4 linked regions of the Homo sapiens genome follow. The protein of the gene in region 1 interacts with the protein of each later gene in a biochemical or structural test. Each region holds a gene or a part of one and is shown on either strand. Other genes may lie near its edges.

Evidence for each region.
Region 2: the proteins of VANGL1 (region 1) and GRIP1 interact in a test that uses a peptide from one of them, tested with the Homo sapiens proteins (one large-scale study listed by IntAct).
Region 3: the proteins of VANGL1 (region 1) and PDZRN4 interact in a test that uses a peptide from one of them, tested with the Homo sapiens proteins (one large-scale study listed by IntAct).
Region 4: the proteins of VANGL1 (region 1) and SYNJ2BP interact in a test that uses a peptide from one of them, tested with the Homo sapiens proteins (one large-scale study listed by IntAct).

Annotation. Positions count from the first base shown.
Region 1 is NC_000001.11:115,658,255-115,663,645, forward strand, and holds part of VANGL1 (vang-like protein 1), read left to right. Parts: intron 1-1,386; coding exon 1,387-1,519; intron 1,520-5,391.
Region 2 is NC_000012.12:66,668,234-66,673,624, reverse strand, and holds part of GRIP1 (glutamate receptor-interacting protein 1), read left to right. Parts: intron 1-5,391. UniProt on the Homo sapiens protein: May play a role as a localized scaffold for the assembly of a multiprotein signaling complex and as mediator of the trafficking of its binding partners at specific subcellular location in neurons.
Region 3 is NC_000012.12:41,561,272-41,566,662, reverse strand, and holds part of PDZRN4 (PDZ domain-containing RING finger protein 4), read right to left. Parts: intron 3,116-5,391; coding exon 3,014-3,115; intron 833-3,013; exon of another isoform or gene 357-832; intron 1-356.
Region 4 is NC_000014.9:70,368,202-70,373,138, reverse strand, and holds part of SYNJ2BP (synaptojanin-2-binding protein), read left to right. Parts: intron 1-7; coding exon 8-148; 3' UTR 149-4,937. Other genes in the region: SYNJ2BP-COX16 protein, read left to right, coding at 8-106. UniProt on the Homo sapiens protein: Regulates endocytosis of activin type 2 receptor kinases through the Ral/RALBP1-dependent pathway and may be involved in suppression of activin-induced signal transduction.

The DNA of each region.
Region 1 (5,391 bases):
TACGTTTTCTTAAGCTAAGTAGTAGGTTAACAGAAGATATGTTGTGTGTTAATAGTTCTATTTACATCTCTTTCTCCAAGGTTATACACACTCTGCATCACTAAGTCAAGACACCATTCTTTGACACTGGCTAATAGTAATAGCAATCATAGCCACTGTGCATTAGCACTTACTCCACATCCTTGTACTGAGCACTACTTACATTATGTGGTGTTGTCATTGTCACCATTTCATACATAAAGAAACCAAGGTTTTCAGAGATTGAATAACTTGTGCAAGATCACACATCTGGTAGGGCAGATCCAAGATCTGTTTGTCTCCAAAATCTGCTTCTGTCCTGCCTGGGAGACCTTGGGAATGACGGCAAGTGGTTGTAGGAAGGAGGGCTGATGTCAAGGTGGCTGTGGGGGCAGGAGGCTGAGGGAACTCACTGACCCTTGAGGGACTCCTTAGGTGGGGGATTCTGGGTTTCCTGTTGGCAGCTGGAGGGGGAGTGCCAGTTCCCATAAGTGGTTATTGCCCAGGTTGTGACCTTGGCTTGGCCAGTGATTGGTTCATTTTGGAATTTCATGAGTGACCCCCAGGCAGGGTTCTTACAATCACGCTGGAAGACCACCCAGGAAGTTCCTGTGGGGTAAAATGATGCAGCAGCCTGCTTTCCTCAGGAGGTCTGAAACCCTCCCCATGTACACACACACACACACACAAACACACACACATCCACCCACACACCCTCCACCCCTCTTGGTGTCTTTGGCCTTTTTTCCTAGCTTGTTTGTTTCTATGGGTGTCTTCAAGTTCAACTAGAACCTATGGGAATGACTTAGTTTTGAACCTGTAAGAATGAGAAGTAAACAATTCTTTGTACTGACTTTGAATTTCCTTTCTTCTGTTGTCCAAAGGTGAAGGGTGACAATGTGTCCCAGATTTTTTTGGATATTCTACAAAAAAATAGATATTTTTTTGTAGAAAAAAGCTTATTCTACAGTGTTGTCCCAATTTTAAAAGCCCTAGAAAACTGGTTAAGGCAAATTATAACCAAATCAAATCACTAATTATTACAATAAAGTGTAACTAGCTACAAAAATCCTAAAATTACAATTTTAGGCTTTGAGAAAATATCACTGATGATAGAGGAAGAGTGACAGTCTTTGTTTTGGGTCTTGGGATGGCAGAAAGAAAATATTTAGTAGGGAGTAAAGATCAGTGTACCCCTTGAAGTGTGGTGAAGATGGGTGGGTTTTGATGCTCTGTGTGTGTGTGTGTGTGTGTGTGTGTGTGTGTGTATGTAGAATTTCCCTAAATTCAAAATGATACTTACATTTTGATAAACCCAGAGAGTTAATTAACATGGCATAAATGTGCTAGCTCATTGTTGTTTTTCAGGGAAAGAACTAGAGAGAGACACAAGTCACCCCGGAATAAAGACGGCAGAGGGTCAGAAAAGTCTGTCACCATTCAACCTCCCACTGGAGAGCCCCTGTTGGGAAATGATTCTACTCGGACAGAGGAAGTTCAGGTAAGGATCAAAGGTGGTCTGTAAGCACACTGCCACTTGGCCAAGACTCCTGTCTGTAAATGTTTTCCTTAGGTTCTCTTGGATTTTTGTCTTTATTTTTCTAGCATGCTAATTAGTTTATCTATGTCCCATGGTCTCTTGTTGGTCTAAGGACAGCCTGTCCTGCCCTTTGGTAGCGTGGGGATTCTTCTGAAGTATGATTGGTTGGCCTGCTTTACATGGTGTGGAAAAGTAGCCAGCAAGGTTGACGACAGGGTTGGGAAGGGAAAAGCTGAAGTCTCCCACGACTCATTTCAAAATGGAACAGTATAAGGGGGAGAAGGAAACTCAGAAAACCTAAGAAGTTTAAAAAACATGGGGCAGCCCAGACTGACCATTACTACTAGAGCTATGCAGGAATTGAGAGGCCGCACGCTCAGATGCCTGGTAGAGAAACGTAAGTTAATTAAGGAGGCCCTGGGTCGAAAAGAGGGGGCAAAAATATATTAACCTAGCTTTGGGTTAACAGCAATCTGTGCAGTGCCTCAGTGTCAGTGCTGTAGTGTGGTGTGAAGGAGCCTATGGCTAACTGGAGAATGCATTTCCTCTGTAAAGGAAACAGCAGCTCCGCAGCTCCAGACACCTACTGTTGCTCAGGAATGCAGGGATTCATTGTTTGAGAAAAGCTGCAAATCAGGATTTTATGTGGAATCCTAACTTTACAGTATTTTTGAAATACTGATACTTTATTAATTTTTTTGAACCATTGAGTGGGTTCTTCTCCAGGTTCCAACTGTCTGGCAGCCCACCTGATTTAAATAAACATCTGAGCTATACACAGAAACATGTCTGCATACCCTCTGCACATCCTGAAGTATATATACACATGTCCAGCCTTGCCCCTCATAAACAAAGTGGTGTATGATACACAGCTGTAAAGATAGATATAGGACTATAGATAAGCATACATCTGTACATACCTGTGCATACACACAGGTAAGCATTTATAATCAAATAGGTGGACTGAAACTGGAATTCCTCAGAGTACACAAGGTGTTCTTGGGACACAAAACTACAATTGTGGGTTGAACGTGGGATTCATTGAGCAATGAGCAAATGCCTTTAGTGCTGCCTGCCTTGGCTCTGGGATGGCTGATGGTCGGATGGGGCCAGTCTTAGGATTGGATCACCCTGGAGTACTTGAAGGGGTCAGTTTCCTCCTGGATGTGGGTTCAGAGGTGCCAGTGGCCTACAGCAAAGGCTCTTCTTTCTCTGCATCTCCTCTGCACCTCGTAGCTGAGAACACTTTGAGAAGCTCTTGGTGTTGCCCCAGGATGATCTGGTGTGAAAAGCATTGAGATGGGTGTTTGGAGGCTGTATTTTTTAGTAGCTCTGTTACCTTGAGCAGTCACAGCCTTTGTAGGCCTCAATTTCTTTATTGAAAATCTAGGGGTTTTGATGAAAGCATCTTAGGTGCTTTTTCTTCTAAGAACCTGAAGCTTAACAGGATCCTTTGTGTATCTACATGTTTTAGGCATACATGTGCACCCCAGGAAATTCTCTCATGCCCTTTCTAGTCAATCTCTGCCCCACCCTCACCTCTCCAAGGCAACCACTGTGTTGATTTCTATCACTGTAGATCAATTTTGCCTGTTTTTGAATTTAGTATAATTAGAATCATATGGTCCATCTCCTGCCCCCACCCACCCGCCCTGCTTAGCATAATGATTTTGAGATTTATCCATGTTTTGGTATGTTTCAACAGCTTATTCTTTTTATTTTTGCTGAGTAGTATTCCATTGTATCAGTCTACCACAATTTGTTATCCATTCTCCTAGTGGATGGACATTTGGGTTTTTTTTGTTGTTGTTTGTTTGTTTTTTGAGGCAGAGTCTTGTTCTGTCGCCCAGGCTGGAGTGCAGCGGCATGATATCACCTCACTGCAGCCTCTACCTCCCGGGTTCAAGCGATTCTCCTGCCTCAGCCTCCCGAATAGCCGGGATTACAGGCACGCACCACCACGCCCAGCTAATTTTTGTATTTTCAGTAGAGATGGGCTTTCACCATGTTGGCCAGGCTGGTCTCGAACTCCTGACCTCAGGTGATTTGCCTGCCTTGGCCTCCCAAAGTGCTAGGATTACAGGCGTGAGCCACCGTGCCTGGCTGGATGTATATTTTTATTAATTTTTGGATAAAACCTGAGAGTGGAATTGCTGGGCCATATAGCTAAGTGTATATTTAGATTTATATGAAACCGCCAGAGTGGTTTTCCAGAGGCACTGTACCACGGTCCACTTCCACCAGCAGTGTTGGAGAGTCCTGGCTGCTTCTGGCCATCGTCTGAAATAGGAATTTCTCTCACTGTAGGTGATACTTCTGACTTTGCAAGTTGAAGGATTATTAGTTTATGGGATTGAGACCTTCACCACCACCGCTTCTTACCATAGCCCATACATTTCATAAATCATGGTTTTTTTGGTCATTACTAGATTCGGAGTTATTTGATGATGAGCGATGTCTGTCTTGCTGATTTAGCTACTAACTGAAACTAGCTTTTTCTAAGTTGGTGTCCTAATTTCACCCCCTTTGCCACTGCATCTGACTGTTTTCTTTCCGAGTGAAAGGATACATACAAATTTCAGAGGCAGAAACCTCTTTGGCCTCCTGTGTCTTTTCAGCGCCTTGCTCTTATTGCTTCATTATTGTTGCCAGTTGTTTTTAAACAACAAAATCCTTTAAAATTCTATCAACTGGGTTTTGCTAAGTGAATAGACTAATTGCTTTAACTAGCAACGGCCTAGAAGTTTAAAAAGAGAGGAAGCTAGAAAGTAAAAGATAACATTTTAATAATCCTGGTTGTTTCTATGCCCTTGATGTTTAGTTCCTCGTGAAAACATGTTTTAGAAAGAATTTTTAAGCCAATCTGGCCATACACGGATTCCTGGATTTGCTTAGCTTGGTCCATGAGAAATATTGTTAAAGAGTGCTTGACACTGATGCTTGTTAAGTGGATCTTGTGAACATCATAAGGAGATTTTTTTTTTTTTTTTTTGAGACGGAGTCTCACTCTGTAGCCCAGGCTGGAGTACAGTGGCACGATCTCAGCTCACTGCAACCTCCGACTCCCGGGTTCAAGCGATTCTCCTGCCTCAGCCTCCTGAGTAGCTGGGATTACAGGCATGTGCCACCACGCCTTGCTAATTTTTGTATTTTTAGTAGAGACGGGGTTTCACCATGTTGGCCAGGATGTTCTTGATCTCCTGACCTCCTGATCCGTCCGCCTCGGCCTTCCAAAGTACGGGGATTACAGGTGTGAGCCACCGCGCCCCAGTCCATAAAGAGATTTTAAAATGTGGGTCCTAGCTACAGGTAAGCTTGGGTTTGTGTAGTGGTGTAAGTTCCCTTGCTACGCCCTTTGCTCTTCTGGGCTGCTAGAGGGTGTAGTAATACTCCCACCTCCAAAAGTTGGACTTCGTAAGCCTTTATAACCCAGCGTGAATTGGAAAGAAGATGCAGGAGGTTTATCTCTATAGATGAGCTCTCACAAGATTAGTCTAATACCTGGGTTGCGCATTGCAGGGCAAACAGCTCCAGGCCCTCAGAGCTGCTCAAGGCTTTTCAACCCAGGGGATGATAATCAATGTTATGTCAATGAATCAGCCAAACAGACAGAAAGATCACATTATGTTTTCTCTGTTTGAAAAGGTAAATACCTCATACATTTTGAAAATTTCAATGAAAATCGTTTGAGTTAAGAAGTTCTAATATTTAAAGAGTTAAGCTTTCATTTTCTGGAAGCCTTTGTGAATAGGGCTGGGTAGATGCAGCGGGCCCTGCATGTTCACTGCCCTTTGTAGCTTTTACAAATGACCTGTGTCATGTCATCCTCACTG
Region 2 (5,391 bases), on another chromosome or scaffold:
TATAACTAGTTAGAATTATCATAATGGCGCATTTATTTCTCCCCTGTCTTCCAAATGGGAATTGGATGCTAGAAATACTTTACCTCGTTCCAGGAGGTACCCATCCTCCAGAGGAAATTTTGGCTATGCCTTGTATGACCCCATATAAACAAGAAGGAGTCTACACCCTTCTTATATGATTGTAGCAGGTTAGGAAGAAATATCTGGTTCATTACTGGGAAAAGGAGGGCCAATGTAGGATAGGCATTCTAATCGATTAACTTATATACTTTTGGGAAATGTTTAGGAGGAAGAATGGAAATAAGGATAGCTAACATTTATTGAGCACTTACTTTCTGCCAGGTACTATTCTAAACATTTTACATGTACTAACTCATTTAAATCTTGCAATATTATCGTCATTATCCCCACCATACAGATGAAAAAGAAGAGGTTCAGAGAAGTTAAGAATCATTCCTAAGATCACAAGTGGAGGACAGGAGGAACCCCAGTGTTTCATTTTTGCCATTTTTTTTCTCTTCTAGAAACGGATAGAAACCATAGACCTGCCTATCTAGAATAATAAAGAGAAATTAATCAAGACAACACCACACTAATCTCTCAGCATTCCTTATGGTAGGGGAAATAGAATAGACTTAGAAATTAGAAGATATGTCAACCTTTCCTAGCTTTCCTATTTTTACTTGTGTGGCAAAAACAAACAAACAAAAAAACTGAATTTCCCCCACTAAATTTCAGTTTCTTAATCTGTAAATTAAAAATTACTTGTGAAAACTGTTTTATACTCATGTTAGCTATAACAAAATGATTTAATTTTCTACTACAGTTGATTTATTTGAAATTCTTATATTAGTAAATTCACTTTATTCTGGCGGAAAATATATAATTTGATAACTTCCCACTATTTGAGAGGAGGCAAAATACATAGTTTCTAGGGATAGGCAAGCCGTCAGTGTTTGAAACTCATCTTTTTCTCTCTTTTAGTTTCTTACCACTTTTTTGCCCATATACATGAGAATTATGTTAAATTTAAAATTAGTAACTGCTGCTTTATTAAATATACAGAAGAAAATCTTATTTGCAGATTTTTAAAATAATTATTTGTTTCAGTATCGCATATATCCAAAAAAAAAATGCACCCAGATATTTATTACATGTAGCTCCTTAAAGGATGTTACTGCACCCTTCAAACCAAGGAAACTTTGACCTTGCCATTACAAAAAGCAATAAAAGCAGTGGTCTTGGATGTCTCAGTCAATGATGACCACCTAAATTCAGGCAAAGCTCGGGGTATTAGAAAGTGAGAAAGAGCTTCTTACTAATAATTCCAACTACATTATTAAATAGCTGAATATATGAAGAATACAATAAGTTACATTTGTACTAAGGAAATTTCTATTCATTTTCAAAACAGATGAATTAGGAGAAAAGGTAAAACTAAATATCACTAAAGATATGTTGTCATCATAATAATGGAAACCAATGGAGGAAAACAAATTGATTTACAAATTATTATGCTTTTTAATAAGTTGAAATTATATGTATAATACATGTTTTGTCTTACATCTTCTTCCTAATATTCTGCCCATTTGTGCACATTAGCACACACTTGTCATAGGAAACTGTTACTGTCTCTGTAGTATTTCCTTATGTGGATAATATATCTTTAGTTTGTTTCCCAGTTTTCAGTCTAATACATGATACTGAATTGTCTTTAAAGAATTTATTTTGTGCTTTAAATTGTTGCCTTCATGTATCTTCACTTTCAAGTCTTCTGATACATATTGTCTGAGAAATGTGTTTAGGATACACGTCCCACACATTTTCCCCAAGGCTTTCTTAAGCTAATAGAGGTGGCAGAGAGAAAAACAGTGGGAGAAATAGCGTTTGGATACCGTAATATCTAAAAACCAAAGCAAAGATGAGAGAAGGAGAGGCGAGAAGCAGCCCTTCTGTTTTGTAAGTGGGTCATTGCTGACCTTTGAGAGAACAGTTTTCACAGGGTATTGATGTCCAAACCAGATTATAAGGATTCTCTGCATTAAAGGCAACAAGGGCAGACCACTCTTTTAAGAAGTCTGAAGGTGAAAGTTAGGCTGTAGATGGGCAGCAGCCTGTGGGGGTGGAGGGCGGGGTCATGGGGGATAAGGAAGGCTATTATAGGATGGGAGAAATCTGAGCATTTTTTAAAAGGATAGAACCAGTAGGGAGGTAAAATTTCAAGATGCAAACTAGAAGAGGGATGAACTCTAGAACCAGGCAAGACAGTGTGAGTGTGAGACCACGAGACAGATGGCAGCCAGCTAGAGTGAGCAAGAGGGACACTCTTGTCACAGAGACAGGAAAGCATAGGAAGAAAGACTTTGAGGTGGACATTAAGGAAATTAATCAAACTTGACTTTCTTAGTAAATCAGAAGATGAGTCTAAAATCTCCTATTTTTATGAGCACCCAATTCAGGGGTTTCTAAATTTTTCTCTCCATTGGAATTACCTTGTAACCTTAAGAAAATAATGTTGCCTGGATCCAACCCCAGAGATTGTGATTTAATTGCCTGGAAGTGTGGCCTGTTCTTTGGCATTTTAACACATTCCCCAGGTGACTTTACTGTGTTAGCTGAGTTTGGGAGCCATGGACCTAACGTACTGGCAGCTTCATAGAGATGCTACTAGATATGTTTCAGCCAGAGACAAGCCCAGGAATTTTACTCAGCTGCTAGAAGGGAGAAGCTGAGCAGATATAAGGGCTATGAAACTGCTATAGCCTTCCTGTGACTTTGAGGGCAGAGCCTGTCTGAAAATGGCAGTGGATCCAAAAGAAAGAGACACCATATCTGACTGTCATCACTTCAGCCCCTGCTCAAGAACTACCTTAAGGGAGCTCTGAGCTCTCCCTTAGACTTCTTCAGTTAAGTTAGCCATTAAATGTCTTTAACACCTAAGCCCATTAGAGCCAGGTCTTTCTGTTATTTGCAATCAAAAGAGGCCTGATACAGGTTATAACGCATTTGTGTGTATACATTTTGGTGAGAGTTTTGAAGACATAGTTTAAAAATGACAGTTGACTCAACCATTTGCTGAGTCCACTCCTGAGTTGCTCTCATTCCACAGAACTGTGTGAACACCCCTGCAAATCTGAGCCTGCAGTCCTGTATGAAGTTATGAGCGCCACTGCTAACGTAGGATTTCCAGTGGATCATTTTGTTAAGTCTTCAAGTCTGCCCTCCTTGGCAGTCCACATCAGCATAGACTGGAAGGAATGTTCCATGGGGATGGAAATGAATATTGTAATTTTCATGTGATTTTTTGTCCTTACTATTTAGGGACCTAAGGGCTAACTGATCTCTCCCTTTCTTCTCCCCTTATGCGGAAGGTTATTATATGGAGAAAATAGTTGAAAGGCAGGGTTATAAAGTTTTCTGCTTTGGTTGTATGCGGTGCAATGTTCTGAGCATCTCAGCTCTTCTCATTGCTCCCTCTTCTCTTCTGTTACTTGTCTTCTTTCAATGCTAATGGACATAGCTACTCATGCAAAGGAGTTCACCCTCATTTGTATGGTGCAGAAAGTCTGTTGCCCTAGCCCACAATGAAGAGTAGACTTCATTGGTTAAAGTCATCTTCTATGGAGCCAATTGTTAAATGTTAAAGAATTTTTTGAACTAGCTTGTAAACACAATCATTTAAAATTATATAAATTTGCAATTAAATGATATTAAAAACGGAGGTAATGAATACTAACAATTCATCATTTTCTAATCATTACTACATTTTATGTTCTGTGCTCTTGAAGTCTACTCTATCTATGTGGGAGAGCTACTCTATAATGGTGTGCCACACATCTCTTAGCAACTCCACATTCAATGACATCAAGTTGGTAGACTGAAATTGGCCATAGTGGGAGTATTTACACCAGAGACATTGATGGATGCTATAAATCAAGGCATGCCCCGACAAAGCCACTTGTTAAACATTTACCAGCACACCACTGAATAGGTACTCCTGCTCTGTGTATTCATAAACCTGTATAGATGGCTTTCATTATGCTTTCTACATTTGATGATAATTCTTTGTTTATCTGTATACAACCATCAGACTATGAATTCCTTGAAAATTAGTATCCATGCTTTACTTACCATTATGTCACTGGCAAGTACAAAGTATTTGGTACAAAGAAAATGCCCAATAAGTATCTGTCGAATGGATAATGTTAATATTTATTTATTTATTTATTTATTTATTGAGACAGAGTCTCACTCTGTCACCCAGGCTGCAGTGCAGTGGCACGATCTCAGCTCACTGCAGCCTCCGCCTCCTGGGTTCAAGTGATTCTCTTGCCTCAGCCTCCCGAGTAGCTGGGATTACAGGCACCCATCACCACACCTGGCTAATTTGTTGTATTTTGGCCCGGCTGGTCTCAAACTCCTGACCCCAAGTGATCTGCCCACCTTGGCCTCCCAAAGTGCTGGGATTACAGGTGTGAGCCACCATGCCTGGCCAAATGATGTCAATTTTTAAAGATCTCCGGGCTTAACCAATCCCACACATTTGTTTTGGGCTTGGAGTGTTTCAGATAATGCCTTTTCTTTTCATCAGAGTTCTTGATTTTTCACATCACATGGGGAAAGAAAGCTCCAGGAATATTCTGAAGATCTTTTTATTTTTTGCTTATTTGTTTCTTTTGAGACAGGGTCTCTCTGTTGCCCAGCTGGAGTGCAGTGGTGCAATCTTGGCTTACTGCAGCCTCATCCTCCCAGGCCCGAGCAATCCTCCTGTCTCGGCAGCCTCCCTGCCACTCCCCCAACCCCCAAGTAGCTAGGACCCCACCATGCTGGTATTATTATTATTTTTTTTTCTTTTTGATAGTGATGAGGTCTCCCTATGTCCCTATGTTTGCCCAGGCTGATCTTCAACTCCTGGGCTCAGGCTATCCTCTCATCTTGGCCTCCCAAGGTGCTGAGATTACAGGTGTGAGCTATTCCTGCACTCGGCCTTTTCTGAGGATCTTTAGTATCCTCTAACATCTGCTGATTTCCCAATTTCCTATTTAACTAGAGGGGTGTTCCATACCTTCCTCCTTCCCCTCCTCCTCCCAAAGCCTGCTCAAGGCTGTCTGGAGGAAAATACTGGCAGGGGACCAGAAACAGCACCAGGCAGCTGGAGGCTGAAGGACAAACTATTGTTAATTCTGCATGACAAAATTCCCAATTGAATTCAATCTGGGGAATATCTAGGACCCCACAGAGTTTCTGATTGAATTGAGTCTTTTCTAATCTATAAAGCTAGGTGACCTCATACAGATCAAAAATGAATTTCGTTTATTGCCTTTGTTTTTCTAAATGGTTTGTTGATAAATTTGGTTTACAGGCTATGAAGACTCAGAAAGTATCAGAGTA
Region 3 (5,391 bases), on another chromosome or scaffold:
ATACAGGTATCATCTTTATTAATATGCAGGCAAATCATAGATTTCATGATATCTATTAAAGGCCATGTAGAACTTAAATGACCTCAAACTTAACTGGGGCCCAAAGTGCTGGCACATTTGTTCATCCTCATTTATCTTAATGTCGCCTGAATAATTTGATCAAATTCCTGTGACTTTGATATGCAGATGAGCTATGAAAATTATGCCAAGTAAAAATGTAAATTCAGCCCAATTTATAATTGTTCAAATTTTACATTCTTTAATCTTTTTCAAGTATCATAAAGCTACAAATGCCAGACATCATAAAAAATTACTTAAAATGGGGAGTGCTTACTATTCACAAACACATCAAGGAATTTTTCTTTAATCAGGTCAAAATAAAGTATTTTCTAACACTGATATATTGAATGATGAAACAGAGTCCTTTGAGGATTAAATGAAGTAGTGGGGAAAATAAAGAGAAAATGGTCAAAATTAATGATTCCCCATAACTCTTTTCTTATTGAGTAATCCAGTAGATTCCTGAGTTGCCAGCCATAGTCATTATATGTCTATTTTGATAAGGCTTTCTTTTAGGCTGGAGGTGCACACAGCACAATTAGCAAAGGGAGATTCTTCTTGCTCACTTCCTTCTTCTCTCCTATTTCCCCCTTTCTACCTAGATGTACATTCACTATGGTCTGAGTCTAATGTAACGGCAGAGACAGACATCTCCCTTGAGCTGAGCTGCAGGAAAAGAGGGATTGTTACTACTAAGAGTGGGGATCTATCTGCACCAAAGGGGGCCACATGTGGCATCTCAGAAAAAGGAACAACCTACACTGTCTCAAAGGTAGTGGCTACAAGTTCTTATGAGAATCCTCTCTGCCCCAGTGTCCTGAGGGAAATAGGACAGAAAAGCAATATCTTTAATGGTCTCAGGAAGAAAATGGGCAGAAAATGAAAGAGAGTTGACAGGAAATGAGGAAAATGAGTTATTTAAAAATATTGCACAGATGTACAATACTGCCCCCAGCAACTCTGTAGATCATTTCCAAGAATCTAGAGAGTATTTGAAACGTTAAAAATGTTTAAAAAAAGCTAGAAAAAGCACACAAAAGCTTCCACATTCTCCCCGAATAAAATACACACGCAAAAAAAAAACATACAACAATGAGATAAATTGAGTTCAATGGAAAAATATGGGTGATATAAAGACAAGATTTTTTTTTTTTAGTTTTTTTTTTGCCACTTTATAGCATGTACTGATTAAATTACATTTTAAAAGTATGGTATTAAAATGTATTTCTTTTCCTGATTTCTCTGGAAATCTGTTTTTTTTTTCTATAGGCAATTAGCTTCCTTCCAGTGTCATGAAGGTTTCTTTAGGATCAAGGGGCTAATGCAGATCATAATTTTGACAGGCAGGACAGCATCCTATGGAGTCAGACAACCATCTTTCATCAAATGTGGAAAGGGAAGTCTCATTTGAAAATTCATCCTTCAGCATTGACTCTTTTGGAGAAAAAGGTCAGAAGTGTAGCCAGATACTCAAATTTTCCACTGGTTCTACCCAGCATATGTATTCCATCAAAGATTAACAGGATCTGGTCTATGTTATTAATTTCTATTATTTCTACAGCCCATTATGGCCACTATGTGGCATAGTTTAAGGAAATGCTTTAGTTCTAAATTAATGAGGTTCTCTAGCAGTTACATGGAAAGGGCAGGGAAACCACATTATAACATAAAAATATCTTCTCTACAATAGAGATGGCAACTTCAATTTATCATAAATTTCACTAATATGCATTTAGCCCCTTTATTATGTTCTTTTTTGAAGAAAATGGGAGCAGCGAGATAACTGGGTTGAGAAATTTCCAGATAATTGGTATAATTTCATATGTATTTAAAAATTCACTCCCACATAGGCAGTGTGGGGGTTTTGTGGGCTTTTTTCCCCACTCCTAAGACCTCAGGTGTGTAACTTTACTCTGCCCCAGGCTATGGCAGACTTTATGAGAACCATTTAGAATGGGCAAGGGCATAAACGAAATATATGCAGAAAGGGTGATCTTTTATAACCACTATATTCAAGTCAGGATTCAGTCTGACACTGAAATACACTTACTCAATGTAATTTATAGATAGTATGTAGTTACTGAGTCTGAAAAATATCATATCAATAACCGAGGAGACAAATGGCGATATAACTAACTTTATTCAAACTACTGACAGATAGATAGACTGGTGACAATGTTTTGTCCCTTCTGCCTTGTGATGGGAGATAAAAAGGATATAAAAGGAAGCCCCAATAGTACTTTTTTTCCATTACCTTTACTCTACTTTCATGACATCTTCTTCCATAAAGATCTAAAAAATTCATTTAGAAGTTATCAGTTTTTGGCTGGACAATTGTTTTGGTCACACTAAACTTGGAAACAATTCATTTACTATACATGGAACCAGATCATGCTATACAAGACATTCTAATTGATAAAGTTATTTTAAAAAGATTTAAGTTGATGACTAGATAGGCTAGTGTTTCTCTCGTGGAGCTTCTTCCAAGATATCTTCATATGCCATTTAAGTATTTTCAGATGGAAACTTAAAGCAAGGATCCACACAGAATTAAAAGGATCCACACAGCCATTTTTCATTTGAGTATTTATTTAAGTAAGTGGCAAATTGAAGGAGAGAATCACAATTCAATTTGGTATGCTTTTCCCCCCTTAAAAGGGATATTTAGCTGCCATTCTATGGAGCAATATAAGGAAGTCTTTAATGTGTAATACTTTTGATAAATTAGGAAAGATCAGTCTTTATTGTATTTTGTATACCTTAATTGCTTTCATATCTATTTTTAAAATTCACTCCCACATAGGCCATCTGGTGGGTTATATGGGGAGAGATAACCGTGATAATGATTTGATAGAGAATAGCAGATAATGAATATAATTCATTCACGAATTTACATTCAGTGAATTCAATGAATATAAAGTTCAGTCTCAAGGCTTTTGATCTCTGTTCTGACCTGAATCTCTGGCCTTGCAACAAGCAGCACGATTCTCTTACACTCATCGTTAGACAGCAAGGCCACTGCTTCTTCTCGATTCTGGACATCTTCCCCATTTATCTAGAAAACAAATGAGAGTGGCACATTAGTTTCCATTTCCACAATGCTGCACACAATAAATGGCAAATATCAGCTCATTTATGGTAAATGTATGGACAATGAAGCTCACACAATGGGCTCATCTTCAGCCCCTCAGCTCAAAGTGCCTTCACTCAATTACGCGCTTACTGTAAGAGCCATATCGATCCGTGAAGGATGGCGGACATCAGAGGAAGCAGTTATGTTCATAAATGTCCAACCTGCGCCCTGGCAACATACATCTAGCAACACAATTAACCAGCTCCTGACAGGTGACGTTCATCTTTCTTCGCTCAGAGTAATGGAAGTGTCACTCTGAGATAATAGTGCTGGGGGAAGAAGGACTGGCAATACCACAACTGAAATCCGTCATCCTGCACGCTTGCCGCGAGCCAATTAGAGAGCTGCAGTATTATCTCTCACCAGGCAATGCTCCCAGGCCACTGCTGATTGCATTTTTATTTAATCATTTCATATTTGCGTGTGGGTCTGACCCAGTTGCCCAAACATCATCGTCAGGATAAATCTCAGTGTTTAACTGATCAAAGTAAAATAACATTCTCATCAATACTCCATTTCCCTTCTAATATCTATCCATTTCCTAAAGTAATACAACTAATGAAATATCTTCAGACTCATCTCTTAAATTTAAAAATTTAAAAAATATTAACATAGAGTAAAATTGAATTTTTAAAATAATGATGAGTGAAAGAAACCAAGCTTGACTAAACTTTAGATTTCATGGAAAAGATTCCAGTGACATTAGAAATATATCTTTTTACTTTTTCTAAGTTCTAAAGAAAAAGTAAATAAGATTTGTAAAGTTTCTTTTTTTAAACTACATTTTCATGTGCAAATATATTTAGCTCTTAATTAATAAAACTTTTTCCTTTGGATATTTAATAATTATTTTCTTTTATTGATTACTCAACTCCATAGAGACAGCAAGATTTTTGATTTATAATTATATGTAATCAAATAATGGGAAAGAAATTCCAATTAAAGAGATCAAGTAATTCTGTCTAAAATAGTATTAATTACTTGAATAAATGAAGCAGATGGAAAATGTAGCAGCACTGACCATTCTTTTTTCAATAATCTAATGTCTTTCACTAAGGACTTCTGCTTAAAAGCATGAAGTAGACTATTGAGGTTTTTCTCCTCATAGGTCTCTGGGTTTCTGGCTGATGCATGAGGACAGACATAATTATCTGAAAACAAGCCCATGAATTTCAACCTTGAACCACAATAAATAATCCTTATTCCTATACTCTTATATGTATTTAGTGCAAGGAAAGCAGGCAATAATAGTAAAAATATATATATATGGGCACAAATTGTATTTTCTTACTCCAATCACTGTCATTTCTCACTTGTATACACAGAAAGGAAATTCAGTGGTTATAAGTTTCACATGCATTCCCTATTTGTTTTTGCAATTCACAAATAAAATTCATCCAATTAGGAAACAGAAGCTACGATTCCACAATGGGAAATAATGACCGGGAAGGATATGTTGCGGTTTGTCATAAATACCTCTGGAAAAGTATGTGTGTACTGACTCCAAGGCCTTTTTTCTCAAATAAAGATAAATTGGCAGTGGTGGATTCCACTATACTTCCCCTACCCTCTATTAAGTGTAGTTTTAAAATAATGACTTTGTAGTATTTACTCTATTTGCACTTTGAGGGCTTATGTCTGTTTCATGGTAATTCTTAGTAATATATTTGCAATGCATTTATTTGTCTGTCAAACATGGACCTGTTTATTCATCTCCTCTCCACTACAGGCACATCTGATCCTAAGAGAATTGAATTGGGTGATCTTACACAGCTTATCTTCATCTTTTCTGTTTGAAATATACTTCTCACTTCTTTTATTCCTGGTCTCCACTTGACTGTACATATATATATATATATAGTCTTTATATATATAACTTAATATATATAATATATATAAAAAATATATATTTCCTCATTCTTCATCTAAATTGCACTTACCATTAATCTAAATACTTATTCATGTTAGTCTAATGCTGCTATTAAGTTTGCTATCTTAAAATGCATATAATAATAGTGCCTTTCTCAGAGGGTCTTTATAAGGATTACATGAGTCGATACAGGTAAAAATCTTAAATAGTGCCTGGTACATAGAATGTCTTCAATGCTGGCACATATTACTGTTGATGCTATTGTTATTGTTGTTATTACTATCATCATTTACATTTTAATCCTTAGTAAAGACAAGACTCTTTCGTG
Region 4 (4,937 bases), on another chromosome or scaffold:
CTTCCAGTTACAGGTGCAGAATGGACCTATAGGACATCGAGGTGAAGGGGACCCAAGTGGTATTCCCATATTTATGGTGCTGGTGCCAGTGTTTGCCCTCACCATGGTAGCAGCCTGGGCTTTCATGAGATACCGGCAACAACTTTGAAAAACTTGCTCTCTTTCAATACTCCCAATGAAGATACATTTCACTCACCCTCCACCCCTGCTATTCTGCCATGTCTTTCCCTCTCTCTGCATAGCCAGATTTGAAGTGACTGATACCCACCCCAAACCTTGCTGTTCACAGTCTCCAATTCTTCATATTCTAATGGGAAAGTAAAGGTATTGTTTGAAGGAAAACTGAAGAAAAGACTTGGCTTAGAACAAATGAGGAGTTATATATTTTACTAGGACTTTTGATAGAAATTCAGCTACAACCCAAAGAGAGAAAGATTGAGTCTTCCTGTCACCATAGGCAATACCTTTTTTCTTAGCTGGCATGCCATAAAGGCCAGCTATGTGATATTAGAGGAAGAAAGGATTTTTCTTTTTAATGATCTTCCTTGGGAAATTATTGTGGCCTTTATTTAATTTCTAACTACGTACCTGGGTGCCTATATCGACAAAGAGTGAGAAGAGCATTTTTACTTTTTTAAAAAAGCAAATACATATATACACATACGTATGCAAATATTATAGTATAATAGTGATCCCTATGGAGAATTAAAGGTGAGAAAGCTACTTTGTGGTGTCTAGGTTTCTGATAAAAGGGATGATCTTAACTGAAGAATTTAAAGAGATACTTAAACAGAGCAAATGTAGTAGGAACAAGGGAGTGAGCCTTATAAGAGGACGTTCAGTCTCATTTATTAAAATAATAACTGAGACTGGGAGAGGTGGCTCATGCCTGTAAATCCCAGCACTTTGGTAGCCTGAAGTGGGAGATTGCTTGAGTCCAGGAGACCAGCCTGGGCAACATAGCAAAACCTCATCTCTATTTAAAAAAAAAATAGAAAAAAATGTAATAACTGAAGCAACTAATTAAAAATCTTAGAAGAACAATATTTATTCTTATAACAGCCAACTATGGTGAGTTATTATAAGGTAAATTGCCATAATCCAGCGCTGCTCACATCTAAAAAACTTTGAGGTGTAAAGGTAAATCGTACCAATCTCTGGGCTGCCCTAGTGACTTTTTTGATACCTCAGAGTCCTATTGAAGAACCAGGTGGAATGATTGTGGTAAGGGCTATAGTGCTGGAGCCAAACACCCCAGCAAGAAAACTCTAAAAGGACAAAAGATAAGGTAGTGCCTCCAAGGTGGCACCTGAACCCTCTCAGGCTACTTTTTGGTTTCTACTAACAAACCTGAGGGAAGGAACTGCCTCCCTGGCAGGATGGGCATCAAATCAACTCTGGCTTCAGATTTAGTTAAAATGAGGCCGGGTGCAGCGGCTCACACCTGTCATCTCAGCACTTTGGGAGGCCGAGGCAGGCAGATCACAAGGTCAGGAGTTCAAGACCAGCCTGGCCAACATGGTGAAACCCCATGTCTACTGAAAATACAAAAATTACCTGGACATGGTGGCGCGTTCCTGTAATTCCAGCTACTCAGGAGGCTGAGGCAGGAGAACTGTTTGAACCAGGACCTGGGAGACGGAGGTTGCAGTGAGCCAAGATCACGCCACTGCACTCCAGCCTGGGCTACAGAGCAAGACTCCATCTCAAAAAAAGAAAGGCATGGATTGCTAGTATTTTTGAAAGGCTTTATACACTACATACGGCTTTTAATAAACCTTTTTGCAGCAAGAGGGAGGAAAAGAGTTTTGTTTGCTTTAGGAGGTAGGGAAATGTGGTAGGTGTTTCATGCGGCCTAGGAGGAGGATATGAATGAATGGATACTATGGAATGCCAGTGATCTCGATAAGGTGGGAACCATCCTGTTCATGTTCTTTTAAGGCTGGTTTTAAGCACTATGGGTAGCTGAATTTTCTGGCTTTAAGAAAATCATTTCCATTAGCCAAATATATTGGCCATACTATAGGCCTTTTATAATTTTGTTAGCAAGATTATCAGGACTCAGGCAATCAACTGTATTTCATTTCTAGCTTGGACAGTCTGGTAATTAAATGTTGATTGGACATCAGCTTTGTCAAGACACTTTTACAAAGAAGTACAGTGCATATCCTCCATCCCATAGGGCTTTTGGGTTCCAACTGCGAAGACAACACTCTTATTGGCCACATAGGTAGGACAGTGTAAGTAGGGGTCATGTTTATATTACAGACAGCAAAAGAGAAAAGTTACTGAGAACTGGGGCGTTTGAGAAAGTTACGTGGAGGAAAGGGACAAGTTGAAGACCCTTAAGGGCCTCACAGCCTAGTTAAGAGAATTCATAAACAGGTGAGAAGTTAAAAGTATATCAGCAGGCTAAGTATTGAAAACAATATTAAAGGGGTACCATGCAAAACACGATGCAGCAACAAAGAAGATATGCAGGTAATCATCACATTTTCTTTTAGAAATTCAGGGAAAAAAAGATGTCACATAATGGCATCAGGCTCAATTGGAAAGGGAAGGCTTTTGAAAATAAGAGGTCCGGTAAGACCTTGCCTCTGGGTCACTACTGGTATAGGGAGAAACTTGCTTTAAACAGTCCTGACATAAAGTGCCTTTTGACATCAACTATTCAATACCTTTGAGACTCACTTAGACAACTGGACTCATTGTAGGTTCCACAGAAAAACACGGACAACATTCTAGTTGTCACTCCAACCAGCCACACTAGGAGGGCACAGCCTCTGGTACCCTTTCTGTTCCTGAAGGCATGTACAGCGGCTTCTACAGCAAGCTTGCTTACCTCCCAGGATTCACCTCATGGTTTGGACACTGATTCCTGAGAGAGCCTTGAGACACACAAAGTGAAAAAAATGTCAAGCAGGAATGAAAGCTCTAGTTTTTTGCTTGTTGGTATATGTAAATTTGTTTAAAAAGTATCCATTCTGTCGTTGGTAGAAGTTTTGCTTTGGTTGATAATAGAGATTCTGATGTACTCTTATAACTTAGGTTTTCTCAGAAATTAAGTAGCATTGAAGATCAATGTAATACAGTTTTAAGCAGGTACACTAATTATATTATTGATTCTATAGAAAACTAAAATTATAGATGAGGTATCAGGATCCATTATAGGTTGTAAAAAAATTCATGTTCTTCATAGATTGAGTCTAATATTTCTTCTATAGATTGCATCTAATGTTCCTACTACCTAAATTATTACGTTCAAAGTTTTGAAAATTGAACGAAGGTATTTTTAAGTACTTAAAACATTTCTCTATCATTCTGTATTACATGTATAATTATAAGATATTGTTTGCTTCAACTAGCTGTACTTTGTTTTCCTGTGAAGTTTCAACTTATGTGTTATCGATTTAACTTAATTGTTCCATCTAGCCATGTATAATGGAAAAAGGAAGTTAATATTTGTTATTGTGTTCTATGCCAGGGACTGTACCAAACTCTGATTGGTACATTATTTCATGTCTCATAACTCTGGGATCTAAGTATTGTCACAAAGAGACTAAAAATGAGAGAAAAAATTACTTGACTAGGATTATGTAGGTGGTAATAATAGAATCAGGATTTAAACTCAGGACTTCAGATGCCAGCATCAATGATATTCTCTCACTGGAAGTGGTTCTCAAAGCAAGGTCCTGACAAAAGCATCAGCGTTACTGGGGAACTTGTTAGAAAAGCAAGTTCATAGGCTGGGCATGGTGGCTCATGCCTGTAATCCCAGCACTCTAGGAGGCCTAGGCAGGTGGGTCACTTGAGCTCAGGAGTTTTGAGACCAGCCTGCACAATGTGGTGAAACCCTGTCTTTACTAAAAGTCAAACAAATTAGTGGTGCATTCCTGTAGGCCCAGCTACACGGGAGGATTGCTTGAGCCCAGGAGACTGAGGTGCAGTGAGCCGTGATTGCTCCACTTCATTCTAGCCTGAGCAACGGAGTGAGACCTTGTCTCAAAAACAAAAAAACAAACAAACAAAAAACAAAAAGCAAGTTCCCAGAAGAGAAAAAAGAAGTTCCAGACCTAGTGAATCAAAAACTCTGAGCGTGGCATCTCACAATCTGTGTTTTTGTAATCCTTCCAGGTGACTGATTCATGCTAAAGTTTGAGACTCATTGCTCTATGCCAGTCATCATTCCCTTTGCTCAGGTTAGAATCATCTGGAGAGCTTATAAACGTCCCCATGCCCAGGCTGCACACAGATCAATTAAAAGGAACCTCTGAGGGTGGGACTCAAGCAGCAGTAAAATAAAGTTCATTGAGTGATTCTGGTGTGCAGCCGCAGTTGAAAATGTTATATAGCATTTAAACAAGACACTATTTAATTAAACACTATTTAAATTATTAAATTACATACATTGCTTCAGGCAAAACAACAACAACAACAACAACAACAAAAACTTGGGCCTTTAGAGCCCAGCTTCCTGAGCTTCTGCACGAAGTAAGTGGAACATTCATTTCTTCCTGATTTGCTAAGGATTGATCAACCTCCAGCAAAATGTATGATTAGTGAGTGTTTCAGTTGGTGCATCAATTAAATGAGAACCAATCATAGAACATTGAAGCTAAAAAGGACCAGAGAGCTTCTAGGATGAATCTGTCTTAGAGATGAGAAAAATAAAGGCTCAGAGAGGGAAGCTAACTTAACTCTGATCAGACTTAGTTTGTTGCAGAAGTGACCTTTCTGTCTCATATTTATGTCTTGAATATATTCACTACATGAATACACAGACTACCCATTTTATCTTAGTCTACTTCTTTCTTCTCTCTTTGGGCCTGAATAAAGACCAGAACTGATAGACAGCTAAAGGATATTGCAAGCATCATTATTGGAATTGGGAGATTCCACAGAACAATCTGAGAATGATCTCATATCAAATCCAATCA